Linked DNA regions of Homo sapiens. The protein of the gene in region 3 interacts with the protein of the main gene of each other region in a biochemical or structural test. Each region holds a gene or a part of one and is shown on either strand. Other genes may lie near its edges. The genes, in order: KCNJ4, CRHR1 and MAGI3.

Region 1 (3,650 bases), on a different chromosome or scaffold from region 3:
GCAGCCCCTTGCCTCATGTGGAGTCCACATCTGTATAGAGAACGGCTGGCCACTTAAGATCTTGGCGATTCTCCTGAAAGAAGGTGCCCTTAAGTTCTGCGGCTCTCCTGGGCCCAGAGGAGGGAGCCCTGGATTTCAAATCACCCTCTGTGACCTTGAGCAATTGGCTTCAATGCCTCATGCCTCCATCTCCCCACCTGTAAAATGGGGATGACAGAATCCTCAAAGGCAACAGCTATGAAAGCAGGAGACAGGAGTAGAGATAAGGCCTCTGACTCTGAAACCATAGACACTCAGGGGCCCGTGGATCCAGCATGCTGGGCAGGGGTTGGACAGGGTAGAGTGGGAGGGTGCCTGGATTCAGACAGAAGGTTTGGAGCTTAAATCACTGGTCTGATGCCTTCGTTTTACAAAAGTGGAAACTGAGGCCTGAGGGGGAAGTAGACCCATCAGGGTCACAGTGATGGTTTGTGGGCGGAGGAAGCAGAGCCAGGGCCATTGTTTTACAAAAGTGGAAACTGAGGCCTGAGGGGGAAGTGGACCCATGAGGGTCACAGTGATGGTTTGGGGGTGGAGGAAGCAGGGCCAGGGCCTGAATCCAGGGCTTCTGGCTCCCAGCTCTATCTGGAAGCAGACAGACAGATGTCCCTGTGTAACACTGTGGCAAGCCCAGACAGGACCCAGGAGCTTTGAGGGCCCAGCTCTGAATTCGGCCACCTCCTTTCTCCCTCCCTTCTCTCCAGATCCCCTCACCCCACTGTCCTTGGGCACTAATCCCCTCCCTCTATTGGTCTCTTTGAAGAACTCCTTTCAGTCTCATTTTAAAGCCAGTTTCAGGCAGTCCCAGGCAAGGACAGGTTGGATTTGGGGTTAACTGGAAGCTTATGCTCCATTCTAGAAAATTCCCAGAGCTGGAGGTGGAGCAAGATAGGGAGCAGCTGTGGTTGTTTTGTGAGATAGTGGGCTCCTCAATCCTAGAGGTATTCAAGCAGAGCCAGATGAGCACCTGCCAGGTGACTCTCGCCTTACGGGTGAGGCCGAATAACATCCCCACTTCCAAAATCCTAGGAGTCTTTGGTGTTTCCCAAAGAGGAGCTGGGAAGCAGTGCCCATCGCTTCCCCGCTTCCCAGCGAGGAAACACATTTGCTCGCCAGGCACTGGGCTAGGAGCTTTTGCAAATTCCCATTTAATTCTCCATGGCAATGTTGATTTGATGTCCCCGTGTTATAGATGGAAGGGCCATGGCTCAGAGAATCTATGTGATTTGTCCAGGGTCACACAGTAAGACAGCAGAGGAGCCTGGGTGTGAGTTCAGACTAGTCTGATTCTCGGGGGCTGTCTCTGGGGCTTCCCTGGGGAAAGAGTGGAAAACGTTCCTCCCTGGGGCTGGGGCTTGGCAGGAGATGGTCTAGACGCCCCCACAGCGTGACACCCCCTCAGGGATCCTCTGGCTCCTCTGGGGGCTCCATTCTGAAGACAGATACCACCATGCATCTTAGGGGAGAACTCATTTCATAGATGGGAAGACTGAGGCCCAGAGACAAGGAATGACCTGCCCGAAGGTGCCCAGAGAGTTAGATTAGGGCCAGGCTGCCTGTCTCCTGGCCCAGGGCTCTGTCCCCTGTGCCAGTGAGTGAGGAGGGGCCTTTGGGCTGACGGTGGTGGCATGAGGTGTGAGGTCGGGAATGCAGAGGGCTGAGAGAGGGCTGGCTCCAAGCTAGGGCTGCAGGAGGAAAGTTATCGGCGCAGGGAGAGGGGAGCAGAAGGGAAATGGCACATGTGCTACAGAGCCTGGTGAGGTCAGTGGGACCTGGCTGGCAGGAGAGGGTCTTGGAGACAACTTCCTTGGGTGGCTCTCTGTGTGACCTTAGGTCAGTCCCTCACCCTCTCCGAGTGATGTCCACCCATCCATGTGAACCTGGGCTGAAAGATCTATTTCCACCGAGTAGCTGTGGTTGGGCTGCTGTCGAAAAGCGCTCCTCCCAACGATGGGAGGACTGTGGGTCCTGGCAAGGGGCAGGCGGGAATCCTAGGGGTTGGCATAACCTTTAAGCCTCCTCTGCGGACTCAGCCCTCCTTGGGGTGTGGGGGATCGCCAGTCACAGCCCTTCTTCTCCTTTTCATCTTTATTTTTCTCCTGTTCCCTCTTCCCCTCGCTACGTGGGCTGATCGCTGCTCAAACTTTTAATTCAGATGGTAATTGAAATAATAATATGGGCTGAGGCCCCTCTGCTTGTGACGCTGCAGCTGGTGGAGCTCGGCTATGAATAGACCTTGAGTCACACACGCGCGCTCCTGCAGGCGCGCACACGGGCGCTCACGGGGTGGTGGGTGGGGTGCAGCATGGGGAGCAGGGGTGAGCTCACGCTCTGGCTTGCTCTGGTCTTGGCCCCCCACTCCCAAAGGTCTTGACCAATCCTGGCCCCGTGGCCCAACACGGGGTCCCTGTCGTGAACCTGGAAGACTTTGGACATAGATGATTCTCATTTACAGAAGGGGAAACTGAGGCTCAGCAAGGGGAAGTGGCTGGCTGGAAACAGGCTGGATTTGAATGGATGGGTTTTGCCTGATTCTAAGACCACTGTTCTCTGTTGGGACACACAGGGTGGGAAACCGGTGGGGAGGAGTGCTGGCGTGTGGCCCCTGCCCCTCCCTCTGCACCCGTTGCCCCACCTGCTCGCAGCCCCCTTTCAGCCTGCGCGTGCATGCTCAGGCACAGACACAGGCACACACGCATGCGCATGCGTGAGGGCTGCTCAGATGGCTGGTGCCGTTGCTTGGTGGCTGGGGTGAGAGCAGTGTTCTCAGGGTATTGCTGCAGGAGGGAAGCTGAGTGCCAGGCTCAGCGCTGGGCTTCATATTCATGATTTCACTTAATCCTCCACCACCCTGGGAGAACCATCACCCCCACTTCTCAGATGAGAATACTGAGGCTCAGAGAGAAGCAAGGATTGGTTCCAGGCTCCTGGGTGGAAACAGCCACAGATGCTTTGTCCTACTGTGCACCCAGTGCCAGCCCCTCCAGGACCCTCATTGGCCACCTGAAGGGAGGTGGGTACATGTCTGCCAGCCTAGGCCTCCCCTTTCCTTCCATGCAACAGCTCAGCCACTCCTCCCTGTGGCTGCTGGCCAGTCCCTGACCAGCCCTGGTGCCAACAGCTGGGACGTCTGGCCTTGGCAGGCAGGGGAGGGTGAGGTGCCCCAGAGAGACATTGGCAGGTCAAGAGGTCCTTAGGGGCTACCAGGAAAGGGGGTCCTTGGTGTTCCCGACCCCAGCAGGAGCTGTGGAGGGAGAAGTCAGCGTTGTAATGGTGACCTGTCAGCTGGGAGCTTTGGTCTAGGCCTGGGGGGCCCCCAGCAGGGCAGAGGGGAGCTGGGGCATGGGAGGTGCAGTTGGGCGGAGGAGCTCCCTGGGACTGGGATGGAGGAGAAGCCCCCACCAAGCCTGGCCCAGCAGCTCCTGTCTGCGGCTGCATTGGCCTTCTCTCCATTTCCTCTCCTGGGAGATGGAGAAACCGAGTCCGGAGACCACCAGGGTTTGCCCAGGGTCACTCAGCAATGGTGGCAGAGCCTCTCAACCCGGAGCTGCTCCTGACTCCTCTGTGTCCTGATGGCTCCCAGGGCTGCCGGCCCCTCCTCTCTCACTGAC
Region 2 (3,650 bases), on a different chromosome or scaffold from region 3:
ATGAGTTGCTGCCAGGACTTCTAGGCCTTCTCCCTAATGCCCTCCCTCCTGCTGCATCTGATCTTCAAAGGGATGGGAAGCATTTCCAAAAATATCTATTTTCCCGTGATTCTTTGGGAGGACTGCTCAGCTCAGCAATTAAAGACAAGGAGGTCGCATCCTCCCTGGCAACGGCTCCCTGCTTGTTGGGCCTGCTTTCTTTCGGATCACCTCCTTTCTCCCCATCAAAGCCTGCTCCCTCTGGGTGACCCAGCCTCTGATGGGACTCCTGACTCTCCCCCACATGTCAAGGGGGGCAAGGGTGTTGAGCAAAGGGGCTCCTCCCACAATATCCACCGGTACCCTTTGATGGGGACAAGGGACACGCTCTGAGTCTCACGTAAGGTTATATAAATACAGCTCCAAGACAATAATAATAAAAATAACAGCCAACATCACATCCCAGGTACAGTTCCAAGCACCTTGTGCATGTTAACTAAAAATATTCAACTCTTGATGTAGGAGCTGCTATTCAGATGCTCTCACTTACAGAGGAGGAAGCTGACAGGTTTCGGGATTTGCCCAAGGTCACACAGCTAGTGGAAGGTAGTGCCAGGATTTGATGCTAGGCTGTCTGGGTCCAGGGGCCACGCTCTTAGCACTACTCCATGCTGCCTCTTAACTCAAGAACCACCCCACCCCATCCCACCACCCCCGGGCCCCTTCCAGCCGGATCTCTGTCCCAAAGCCCCTATCCCTGGAGGTATTTCAGAGCAGCCTCTGGTCCCGGGACTTCCCAGCCATGGCAGAGACACTGGGTTCTCCTGGTTCCTCGTCTCACCCTCCCCTCAGACCTCCATGAAAACCCACTGGGTGAGCCTCAGCCCTCCGGTAACTCATCCCTCATTTGGCAATTGGAGAGAATCAGCAGCCTCTTCACCAACTCTGCCCAAGGGCCTGAGGCTCCCTGAGACTGCGGTCCACTGACATGGAAGAGCTTTAAAAATCCATTTAGCCGGATCTCCCACTGGCCAGCTGTAGCTGAGCAGCTCCTCAGCAGGGGGACCAGGGAGGGGAATGGAGGGGAGTAGTGCGAGAGAGGAGAGGCCACATCTACTTTTCAGCCCTGGAGGCCAGGACGGGCTCCCTATCATCACCTTCTTGTCCTGATGCTGCCAGCAGAGGCAGCTCCCAGGCTGGATGGTCCCTTGGGGATCAGCCAGTCCAGCCCCTCCTTTTATAAATGAGAAGGGGTCCCCAGAGGTCAGTCATGCAGCACGGCAGCAGCTCAGCTGGTCCCAGGGCCCCAGCCTCTAGATCCTCACAGGGTTCTGCCCCATGGGGCTCCAGACTCAAGGACTGGGACTCCAGCAGCTTTCCCAGCCCTGTTCCAGCCCCAAGGGCCACTGGGAGCCACAGGAAGGCCTACAGTGAGGGAGGCTCCAGGTGAGATACTCAGGGCTTCATTTCTCTGCCAGGCAGTTCTGCCTGAAGTCAGAGCCAGAATTAACTCAAGGAAGCATGTTTAGAGCTACTGATGCCAGAGCCGGGTACAGGGTGGGGTGGGGCAACCTCTGCCAGCAGAGAAGATGAGATGGAATTTAGAACTCATGCTGTCCCTTCCCAGCTAGGTTTTAGGACCCTGGAGCTCAAGCCTGGTAGGCATGAAGGAGGGTAAGGGGAACACGTTGGGCAGCTCTGCCCATCCCAGGGCCCTAAAGCCAGGCATCAATTCAGCTCACAGGGCCCCTCCCCATCTCCTTAGAAGGTGACAGGTTCTGGGCCACAGTCCAGGCCGGTGGCTGCACAAACCTCCATATGTCCCTGGGCCACTCTCCTGCCTTCCTCCTTGAGTGACATGGGCCAGGCTAGGAGCAGCTGTGACAGACCTGAGTGATGACATCTCCCCACACACGCCTGTCACCTGTCATTTTCTGTCCAAGAGACCTCCATCATGGATGTTCCCCCCACCCACAGACCACGACCTTCCAACACAGGCCCGCTATGGGGAAGTGCCACCATGGGACCTTCCCCAAGATCTGCCCCATGAACTCTGAGCCCCCATGTGCAGCACAGCCAGTGAGGACCTCCCACGGCAGCCTCTGTGAGATGGCTCTACCACAAGAAGCCCTGTCATGCCACCTGCCACGCGAGCTGTCACCGCATACCCTTCCACCGTGTCATGCCCAGCCTCGTGAAAATTGACTCATGAGGTCTCACCATTTTTTTGCTGTCTTGCAAGACCCCTGAAAAGGAGATTTCTCAGAAGAGCACCTACCTGTCATCTGCCACCACATAATGACTTGCAAAGGAACAGCCCAGGGAGCTGGTCAAGCCTGTCCACGGGCCAGTCCTGTGGGCATGATCATGCCAGCTTGAGTGGGCAGAGCCGGGGGAGCCACCAACCCCTGCTGGAGGCCAATGGGCAGAAAGAGGCAGGAAGATGGGGGTGGTAAGGAAGCCCCTCTCCCCAGCTTCACTACACAACCCCCAGCCAGCAGGTGCCTGTACTGGCCATCTACAGATCCATCTACGCATCCATCTGGGCCAGGATGGTCAGGCAGGGGCCGGGGCTGCCCCGCCATCACTGCCTCTCTCTTCCTTTTCCAGACAATGGCTACCGGGAGTGCCTGGCCAATGGCAGCTGGGCCGCCCGCGTGAATTACTCCGAGTGCCAGGAGATCCTCAATGAGGAGGTGAGGCTGAGCCGAACAAGGCTGCCCATATGGAGGGGAGTCCAGGGTCCCCAGCAGAGTTTTGTGCCTGCTACTTGGAGTCAGGGAGCCAGAGGCTAATGTCAAGGCCCTGCTCTAGTGAAGCTGACTGGGGAGCTGGAGCTGTCAACTTGGAAAAGGCCCATGAGCAGGCGCCCTCGAGGGCAGGCTGGACCAATGGGGCACTGGGCAGGCTCTGATGGTGATGAGATGGGTCCTTGTTCCTTCCTTCCTTCTCCCTGTGCTCATCGGGCAGCCGCTTGCACTGGGCATGGGACTGTCCTGGGGGTGCAAAGGGAGACCAGACTCGGTCACAGGAGTCCCACCCTTTTCCACAACACATGCCTGAGAGATACATCCAGTTCCAGCCACAGGGCTGTATGGAAACCAGGGACGGGATGGAGGTAGCAATGCAGTTTGAAAAAGCCCTTGGAAAGCCTTTTAAAATGTTAAATGTTTTTGAGCAGATATTGCTTACACAGAACTCAGAAGGTACAAATGGGAATACAATGTCCCCTCCCACCCCGTCCCCAGCCACTGGATTCCCTCCCAGAGGCAACCATTTTGCCAATTTCACAAGTGTCCTTCCAGAGACATTCTCCGCATACACGAGTAATTTTGTATACGTATTCTTTTTTGTTTTTACCTGAATGTTGCATGTTATACACACTGTCTACACCTTGCTTTTTTCATATAATCATCTATCTTAGAGATGGTTCCATATCAGTACATAAAGAGCATCTTCATTCTTTTTGCATTTGCATAATATCACAAAATGTACCATAACTTATTTAAACCAGTCTTTATTCTCAGTCTTTAGTTATTACAAATGCTGCTGCAATGAATAATCTTTGAAGGGTGATATTTGGCAGAGGCACAAATATATCTATCCTGGAGCTGCTACTGCCCTCGGTCTCTCCCACCCTGTCTCCTTTCCCACCCGACGCTTTCTCCCTT
Region 3 (3,650 bases):
AGATGTTTCAATTGGTACCTGTCAATCAGTATGTAAACCTCACTTTATGTCGTGGTTATCCACTTCCTGATGACAGTGAAGATCCTGTTGTGGACATTGTTGCTGCTACCCCTGTCATCAATGGACAGTCATTAACCAAGGGAGAGACTTGCATGAATCCTCAGGATTTTAAGCCAGGAGCAATGGTTCTGGAGCAGAATGGAAAATCGGGACACACTTTGACTGGTGATGGTCTCAATGGACCATCAGATGCAAGTGAGCAGAGAGTATCCATGGCATCGTCAGGCAGCTCCCAGCCTGAACTAGTGACTATCCCTTTGATTAAGGGCCCTAAAGGGTTTGGGTTTGCAATTGCTGACAGCCCTACTGGACAGAAGGTGAAAATGATACTGGATAGTCAGTGGTGTCAAGGCCTTCAGAAAGGAGATATAATTAAGGAAATATACCATCAAAATGTGCAGAATTTAACACATCTCCAAGTGGTAGAGGTGCTAAAGCAGTTTCCAGTAGGTGCTGATGTACCATTGCTTATCTTAAGAGGAGGTAAGTAAAAGCACAACATAGAAAAAGTTTCAGTGTTCAAGCGTTTATATCTACTGATTGTCTTTCCTTACAGTTTAGAATGTGTTTTCCCAGCAGACTTAACTAGTAATTAGTGTGCATTTTCCTTAAGGTTCTGTCTGATTGTTTCCATAAGCAGTGTCTTTTTCAGCAGTTTTTAAAAAATTATTAGTGATTTCATTCATGTCCATTATGGATTTATTTCCCTCTGTATTCTTTTGAAAATCTGATTCATGGCTTTAATGATTAGAGAGAGTCACAGCATTGTGATACTTCAAATGAAATACATCCTCTTAATTTCATTTCTCTGTTGATGACAGTAATAGAAATTGACTCTTTCAACCAATGGTGTGTCATCTGGACCTCTGTAATGCACCAAAGATGTTTTGAAAGAGCTAGCATCTCTGTGGATAAGTAAAATGTTGGATGGTGTATTAATCTGTTCTGCAGAGGCAATCATGATAGCATGTGCTCATAAAGTTTTCATCTTAAGCTCTAGTATCTGACTGTAAATGTTAATTAAACCACACAGTGCTTATGTGAGAGAAATATAATTTTTATTTTCCAAGGTCATCAGCTGACATGAACTCCTCCCAGACATTTACAAATTCAGTTCCAAGGAATAATCACAAAGTTGAATTTTAATATGCTTTCTTAAATCCATACTTATAAGTGACTAGTATCTTAAAGAATAAAAGCCACTTACTCTTTTATCTCTCTGGATTTTACTTTTCACTATTGAGGCAAACGAGCACTTCAGCTTCTTTGGGAGTTGTTTCTTATTCTCGTTTCTTTGATTCACATGGGTTTCTTCTCTGAGTGATGGTGGAATGTGCTCCAAGTAAGGTAGAAATCTCTTTGTGAGTGCTTGAGAGTAATCCAGGGCTTCAACAAGTATAACAAAGACACCAAAGTTCAATGTCACACAGGTTTGATGTCAGTTTCCTGCCTTGCCACTTACTGGTTCTTTGGTATAGGAAAGAATCTTAGTTTACCTTCTCTGTAAGATGGTCATAACATTTGTGCCTTCAGATTGTTATAAAAATGAAATGAGATAATATATGTATAATGCCTGGTACATAGGAGGTTAGACACAGAATTTACTAGCGTACTAAAAGTTGAAGCTAGTTTTATCGTAAACATTAGCAGTATTTGTGATCTGGGAATGCATCCTCTGGTTTTAAACTTTGGTTCATTTTTTTTTTAAGGTCCTCCTTCACCAACCAAAACTGCCAAAATGGTGAGTATACACTGGTCCTCAAATCTTTTCCCCAACACACTGAGAGAGATGCCACATTCCCCTCTGTAAGAGGAGCTCACTGTGGTGATGATTATCGACTGGGAGAAGTTAGGAGGCATGCTGCCCTTGGCTTGTATTTATTAGAAACTAGGGAAGCGTTTGAAAAAGCCCCCTAGTGAGGAGATGTGCTCCACTGGTTAAGTATTGCAACTGGAGGATTACTAAAGGCCTATTGTACCAATAATCCTGTTCTCTAAGTTATAAAATGTGAACACATTAAAGAACCAACCTAGAGGTCTTTTTACTTTTGTGTTTCAGAGAAACAAGGTAGGAAGGACCTAAATGTTAAGACAGATGATAAACTATTACATCGTCTTGCCCCTGCCTGAAGAGAAGACGTACTAGTTCACATAATTTTGTGGGGACTATAAATATGCATGCACCTTTAGATAATCTTCTTACTTTTAAGACTAAATTAGGCTTATTTTTTTATTATTTATTTTTTATTTATTTATTTATTTTTTGAGACGGAGTCTTGCTCTGTCGCCCAGGCTGGAGTGCAGTGGCGCTATCTCGGCTCACTGCAACCTCCGCCTCCGGGGTTCAAGCGATTCTCCTGCCTCAGCCTCCCAAGTAGCTGGGACTACAGGTGCACGCCACCACACCCAGCTAATTTTTTTGTATTTTTAGTAGAGACAGGGTTTCACCATGTTGGCTAGGATGGTCTCAATCTCTTGACCTCATGATCTGCCCGCCTCGGCCTCCCAAAGTGCTGGGATTACAGGCATGATACACCACGTCCGGCTGACTAAACAAGACTTTCTAGAGTAATTGTGGCCTTCTATGCTAAATTTGCTTGTTGTCAAAGTGAAAGACCTGAAACAGTGTCTTCTTTGGCATTCTTCTAAATAATCACGTAGCCTGTTTAAGGACCTGTGCAGAGAATAAGAACTTTAAAAAGGAGTGCATCAAATGCTGCTGTTGTGGAAGAAACTCTACAAGGTGCACATTTGTAGCTATTTAAATATCCACAATGTTTTGGATATAAAGACAATTTTATTTAAAATTCTAATTTAGTTCTAGTTTGCTCCTTTGGAGTCTTTTATCTCAAAATCAAAAGATGGCCTTCCATAACCATAAACTATAGACAATTATATTAAATGAATTAGTTCTTTCTAGCCCACCAAGTAGGAATCCTCTGCAAATTTGCTGTTTTATAGATTAAAAAGAATCCCTCAGCTTCTGGCCTTTTTTTTTTTTTTTTTTTTGAGACAGAGTCTCACTCCATCACCCAGGCTGGAATGCAGTGGTGTGATTTTGGCTCACTGCAGCCTCTGCCGCCTAGGTTCAAGCAATTCTTGTGCCTTAGCCTCCCAGTAGCTGGAATTACAGGTGCACGCCACCACACGCAGCTAATTTTTATATTTTTGGTAGAGATGGAGTTTCACTACATTGGCTAGGCTGGTCTCAAATTCCTGACCTCAGGTGATCTGCCCACCTCGGCCTCCCAAAGTGCTGGGATTACAGGCATGAGCCACTGCGCCCGGCCAGCTTCTGCCCTTTTCATTGACTGCTTATACTACTTGGGTCCAGTGTGAACAGAAATTGTTTTTGTCCATTCAGTTCAAATTGCACTGTATTCTACATTTCTCTGGTTCCTCTAGTAATCATTTTTAACTCCTGTGCCACCATATTTATTTCATAATGGATGCCACTGCAGTCGCAGTGGCCCTAATGCTTTATAATTGATGGAAGGGTCTGATGAACTTTAACCGCCTCTGACAGAATGCTAAGATGTATGGGGAAGGGTAGGAGACTACTGTTAGCTTCTCTGCCTTCTCATTGGGTC

The links.
Region 1: the proteins of MAGI3 (region 3) and KCNJ4 interact in a test that uses a peptide from one of them, tested with the Homo sapiens proteins (one large-scale study listed by IntAct).
Region 2: the proteins of MAGI3 (region 3) and CRHR1 form a complex in vitro, tested with the Homo sapiens proteins (2 studies listed by BioGRID and IntAct, with this or other methods).

What each region holds. Positions count from the first base shown.
Region 1 is NC_000022.11:38,448,618-38,452,267, reverse strand, and holds part of KCNJ4 (inward rectifier potassium channel 4), read left to right. Parts: intron 1-3,650. UniProt on the Homo sapiens protein: Inward rectifier potassium channels are characterized by a greater tendency to allow potassium to flow into the cell rather than out of it.
Region 2 is NC_000017.11:45,818,766-45,822,415, forward strand, and holds part of CRHR1 (corticotropin-releasing factor receptor 1 isoform 2 precursor), read left to right. Parts: intron 1-2,589; coding exon 2,590-2,675; intron 2,676-3,650.
Region 3 is NC_000001.11:113,641,974-113,645,623, forward strand, and holds part of MAGI3 (membrane-associated guanylate kinase, WW and PDZ domain-containing protein 3), read left to right. Parts: coding exon 1-543; intron 544-1,769; coding exon 1,770-1,801; intron 1,802-3,650.